Linked DNA regions of Homo sapiens: region 2 is linked to region 1. The links come from fine-mapping of genetic effects on gene expression. A gene starts in region 1. The other region holds a variant in brackets. All regions are shown on one strand. Distances are between the middles of the regions. Region 1 holds the start of FAM171A1-AS1 (FAM171A1 antisense RNA 1). Region 2 overlaps FAM171A1 (family with sequence similarity 171 member A1).

Evidence for each region. PIP is the estimated chance that this variant, and not a neighbour inherited with it, causes the effect. A credible set is the group of variants that fine-mapping cannot tell apart.
Region 2: its variant is the best candidate, but not a certain one, in a credible set for the expression of FAM171A1-AS1 in putamen (GTEx, PIP 0.55).

The regions. Positions count from the first base shown.
Region 1 is chr10:15,207,107-15,210,024 of GRCh38, forward strand. It overlaps FAM171A1-AS1 (FAM171A1 antisense RNA 1), which reads left to right and starts at 1,481. Exons shown (of 3, transcript XR_007062068.1): 1 at 1,481-1,565. It overlaps LOC105376434 (a long non-coding RNA gene), which reads right to left and starts at 294. Exons shown (of 4, transcript XR_930699.2): 1 at 270-294. It overlaps LOC107984211 (a long non-coding RNA gene), which reads right to left. Exons shown (of 3, transcript XR_001747379.2): 2 at 2,910-2,918; 3 at 1,151-2,093.
Region 2 is chr10:15,236,305-15,239,222 of GRCh38, forward strand. The region is part of intron 5 of FAM171A1 (family with sequence similarity 171 member A1); the gene reads right to left. It overlaps FAM171A1-AS1 (FAM171A1 antisense RNA 1), which reads left to right. Exons shown (of 3, transcript XR_007062068.1): 2 at 1,215-1,360. Among named protein-coding and RNA genes, the nearest start is that of FAM171A1-AS1, 29 kb to the left of the region's middle. The variant T/C (reference allele first, on the strand shown) is at 1,247.

The DNA of each region.
Region 1 (2,918 bases):
GAAGCTTGCAGAAAGCAGTACGATGGGGCCGGGCACCATGGCTCACGCCTGTAATCCCAGCACTTTGGGAGACCGAGGTGGGCAGATTACTTGAGGCCAGGAGTTCGAGACTTGCCTGGCCAACATGGTTGTATTAGGGTTCTCTAGAGGGATATAACTAATGGAATATATATATTATATATAATAATATATATATATACACACACACACATGCACATACATATATACACACATATGTATATATAAAGGGGAGTTTATTATTAACTCACATGATCATAAGGTCCCACAATAGGCCGTCTGCAGTCTGAGGAGCAAGGAGAGCCAGTCCGAGTTCCAAAACTGAAGAACTTGGAGCCTGATGTTCGAGGGCAGGAAGCATCCAGCACGGGAGAAAGATGGAGGCTGGGAGGCTAGGACAGTCTCTGTTTTCACATTTTTCTGCCTGCTTTGTATTCTAGCTGTGCTGGCAGCTGATTAGGTGGTGACCACCCAGATTAAGAGTGGGTCTGCCTCTCCCAGCCCACTGACTCAAATGTTAATCTCCTTTGGCAACACCCTCACAGACACGCCCAGGATCAATACTTTGTATCCTTCAATCCAATCAAATTGACATTCAGTAGTAACTATCAAAATGGTGAAACCCCATCTCTACTAAAAACACAAAAGTTAGCCATGGTAGTACATGCCTGTAGTCCCAGTTACTAGGGAGGCAGAGGCAGGAGAACTTCTTGAACCCAGGAGGCAGAGGTTTCAGTGAGCCAAGGTAGCGCCACTGCACTCCAGCCTGGGTGAAAGAGTAAGACTCTGTCTCAAAAAAACAAACAAACAAAAGTAATAGAATGGGGAAAAAGAGATGCCACTGTTTTGTCTACCATTTTCCTTAAAAAGTAGCTGAGAAGCAGCTGATATAGCCCCAAAATGACCATTGTCACACTAGAGCAACAAGATTAGGGAACTGTAAGATACTAGTAATAGTTCAGAGAAATAAACTGTTTTTGTAATTTACAACTTACAAAAACTTTGATATGTATTGTCTCACTTGAATTCAACTCACCCAGAGGTGAGGAGAGCAAATACCCCCAACCTCTTGCTAAAGCATCAGAAGTGAGTCACCTGTCTGTTGGTCAGAGCCAGGCCTGACACCCAGAGCTTCTTCTCCAAATCCTAGATTTTAATAATTAGCATGGTTTACTTATGCCTTAGACCCTCATTATGGAGTGCTGAATGCATACTGTAGACAGATAGCAGAGGGTGCCAGTGAGGTGAGATGGGGCAGCAGCATGCAGAGGTGGCTGCACACTGGGCCGAGTGTCAGGAGATGAGGCCCACCTCTGTGTGGTCACCCATTGCATATGTGGAAAGGTCAACACAACACTTGTGACTTCAGCCTTCAATTTCCTCTGCTGTGAGACCACCAAGCCTCTTTCAGGTTCTTCTATTCCTGCCCATCCTGTTAAGGTGCAAAAGCCTAGCAATGCGAGAATTATGAGCCACTTTGAAGGTACCAAAATACCAACCTGAAACAACTCACAATGGCTGCGAAGAATGGAAAAAACATTTGCCAGGTATTTTAGTGTATATTTACAATTACAGCTTTGAAAATCATTTTTTTTTTTTGGCGGGGAGGAGAAGACTTGCAATTTCTATTTCGCCTGGAGTTTAGCTGGCTTTCTCCCTGATCTATGAGAGCAACTGCCTTTCTCCTTGTCACTGCCTTCTCCTGTTTGAAGGACCATGACAACCATCATGCCCTTTTCAAGTTCTCTGTGATGTCATAAAAGTCCCCAAGACATAATTGCAACTTGCTTTAACTATGGTGTCAATGCAGCAAACAAGAAATCGTGGAATATCAATATGGTTGAAAAATCACCCCCCATTTCTAACTTTACTCATTTTTATGAGGTCCTCTAGGTCTAAACACCTGCATAAGCGATGTCTGTGAGAGGGTGAACACAAGAAATCACACTGAGTTTGTCATGCTTGTGGCCTACGTACCATTCTGTGGCTTTCTGGTTTCCTTCCTTTTTGGTTTTGGTTTCATTTTCTTGGGTGCGATGCCTCTTTGTTTTTGCATTTGTCTGTGCTAGTTTATCCTAAATAAAGTTCCAAATGCACAGGGTCACTATCACTTAAATGATGTTGTGTATCCCCTGGCAGAGCTTAGGGCACACACTTTCTTTTCTTTTCTTTTCTTTTTTTTTTTTTTGAGACGGAGCTTCGCTCTTGTTGCCCAGGCTGGAGTGCAGTGGCGTGATCTCGGCTCACCGCAACCTCTGCCTCCCGGGCTCAAGCAATTCTCCTGCCTCAGCCTCCCGAGTAGCTAGGATTACAGGCACCCACCACCACACCCAGCTAATTTTTGTATTTTTAGTGGAGACAGGGTTTCACCATGTTGCCCAGGCTGGTCTTGAACTCCTGACCTTAAGAGATCCACTCACCTCAGCCTCCCAAAGTGCTGGGATTACAGGCCTGAGCTGCCACGCCCAGCCTTATGTATTTCATTATACAGATTATTATGTATTCCATTTGTAAGTTCTGTCCTATGCATCCTTTATCAGGGACATTTATAATTTAAGTGCATTCATTTCCAGAGAGCTGGCTGTTTAAGCCGTGCACCACTGTTTCTAGCTGGGTGACCTCAATTACTTAACCACTAAGCCTCAACTTCAGTGCAAAACAAAGAAGAATAAACATTCCTTCCTTGAAAGATTTTGAGGATTGAATGCAATGATTGTTTCCAATACATTGTTTCCAGGTAGAGACTCCAGGAACCTCAGTCCCCTTCTCTCCACCCACCTCACCTTGGGGAGAGACCCAGTGGCAGATTCACCCCTGTGCACGCCCACCCCTACTTTCCCAGAGTGGCCCTGTGTGTCTGGACTAAACCGTTACAGGTGGGGAAAACTCACCACTAGGGG
Region 2 (2,918 bases), 29 kb after region 1:
CACACTGCATATGGGCTAAATAATAGCAGCGATGATGATGATAAGAGCGGCAAACACATACGGAGGGTTTTCCAAGCGCCAGGCTCTGTGGTAGGCACTCTCCACTCACAGCAATTCTATGAGGGAGGGGCTGGGGCTATTATGATCCCCATTTTATAGAGGAGAAAACTGAAGCCCAGAGACGAAAAAGGACTTGCTCAAGACCACACAACGAGTCACCAGAGGAGGAGCCGGCATTCAAGACCAAGCCGTCTCGGTGGCTGGGCTGCACACTGCCTCTATCCTGTTCACGAATGCTATCAGCTGTGTCTCATCCAGTGCAATATTCACATCTATCAATAATATTCTACCTTCTAATTACCCACTCAAGTGGAGGCAACTGAAACCAGGTGATACTTAAAAGTACTGAATTCTGAAATATAGTGGCTTTACTTTCCTAGTTCTTTTTCACCCAGGTTAATATTAGAATGATTGTGTTAGATGCTGTCCTTAAAATCCAGGCCAGACTGGGCGTGGTGGCTCACTGCCTGTAATCCCAGCACTTTGGGAGGCTGAGGCAGGAGGATCACTTGAGGCCAGAAGTTTGAGACCACGCTGGCCAACATGGTGATACCCCCATCTCCACTAAAAATACAAAAATATGCTGGGTGTGGTGGCACTTGCCTGTAGTCCTAGCTACTTGGGAGGCTGAGGCAGGAGAACCGCTTGAACCTGGGAGGCAGAGTGAGACTCTGACTTGAAAAAGAAAATCCAGGCCAAATAGCAGCAAACTAAGAGGGCCTTGAGGCTCCTGGGTGATGGGGAAAGCCCGCAGGAAGACACAAATTTGCCACAGATAATCCACAAAGTGAATACTCCATAAGTGGTAACTAAGAATGAAGTGTAAAATAAAACCTCTACAACTCCAAGATCACAAAAGCAGGCTATACCAAGACGGGAAATTCTAGTTCTACATAAAATGATACGTTAAGAGACCTAAGTCCCTAAGAATGGGGTTTTTAAACAAAAGTGCCCCCTGAACCCGATCATACTAGAACAAATGTGATGCTATTATTTTATGAAAGTTCTCATTTTGGGGGGAGACAAACACAAAAGGCTTAATGATTCCTAGGAATGGATTGATAATACAAGATTGTTTTTTGAGTTGCTAGGCAACACTGAAAAACAAATGTCGATGTTCTGAGATCACAGCTTGGTTGTTCTCCCATGGGCAGGACCAGTGCTACCCGGCCTTCCTGCACTCCAT[T/C]GGAGAACAGGAGTGGTACAGAGCCACTGCGATGCTGAGTCCACAGTGGCAACAGACACCAACTGGCATCTCCATGAAAAGTCACAACTGACCGCCTGGCTGCCAAGATCTTTGGTGAGACAAAGTTTTCACTGAACTGTCATCACACCCAAACAAGTCCCATGCTCTCCGGGTTCTTTGCTATCTGTGATCACTTCAATCGCTTTTTTTTTTTGCAGGTACATTACCCCCTTTTCCCCTACCGGTCTCATTAAAGCCCCATTCACCCCTAAGAGTGATTTTGACATCTGGGAAAGTACAGACACTTTTCCTGAGAGTTATTTCTTTATTTCTAAGCCATAGCCTTGACTCTGAATATTTCCACTGTAAAAAGGCCTATTTCCAATAACAGCTTTCTTAGGGATATGTTGATATTACCTTAGGTAAGTTGAATTCCTCCTTTGCTGAATGCCCTGAACTACGGCATCTATTCTTTTTCAAAAAATAAAAGATGATGCCCAAGGTTCTAAAATCACGTCACACATCTACGCACAGACTTGGTAAAGAAATGAACTCCCTTCTTTCATTCTAATGTTTGGGGGCACAGTGTAGTACTGTTTATCCCTATAATCCAATCACCCACCTCAGTATTCCAATCTGGGTTACTTCACCTAGTCATGTGGCTTGTGATATATAGAGACAAAGATAAGCTAATATTGTAATAATGATTTCACTGAAGACTATTTTTTAAAGAGCAGATTTAGGTTCGCGGCAAAACTGAAAGGAAGGTGCAGATATCCCACATACAGCCCAGACTCCCTCTTGATCAATATCCCCTACCAGAGAGGTGCCTTCGCTACAATTGATGAGCCTGCATTCACATGACATTATCACCCAAAGCTCATCATTTCCATGTTCAATAATAGTTTCATTTTCTTTACGTTGTAAACATAATTTTGTGCTTTAAGAACTCCCACTCTTTGCCGCCCTTCCCCCCCACCCCCAATTAAAAACCCAATGAACCTGAAAAACAATCTTAGATCTGTGTTTTAAATGAGTCTCCACCTTCAAGGGCAAGTTGTCCGTCACTTAGGTAAAAGGACTAATTAAATGAGCTTGTCATAGCCGTAACATTCACCGTCTGAAGTGCAGACGAATCTACTACAGGCCAATTGTGAGTGGGTATTCCTGAGAGCCTGACACGAATGCATCGTACGTGGTAAGAGGCTGGTTCAGTAACCACCATTTCTATAGCAACCCCCACACACTCTCAGGCTGTGTTTTGAAGAGGCAGTGAAAACTGGATTCTACAATGTAGCTTCACTCTTAGAATATGCTTTTATTTCTATCATCTCATTAGAATGAGAGTATCCAAATCATATAATCCAGGTTGCCATTAAACAGGAGAAACTTATCAAATACAGGATCCGTAAATCTTTATTTATTCTTTTTGCCACTTGATGTCCATCGCTTTAAATTCAAACCACTGACCTGGTTTGCCTGTGACCATTCCCCAGGGCAACAAGTCAGATGTCCGTCTGACAACCTGTACATCAGACAGCCATCTGCTGCCCCAGTTACAGGATAAAGAAAGGGTAAACGTCTGTAAAATAGAGCTGACATAATCATCTCTTACTGTCCAGAAAGGCTCAGCTAAGAGGCATTCGCTATGACTAACAAAACTTCCTTTGAC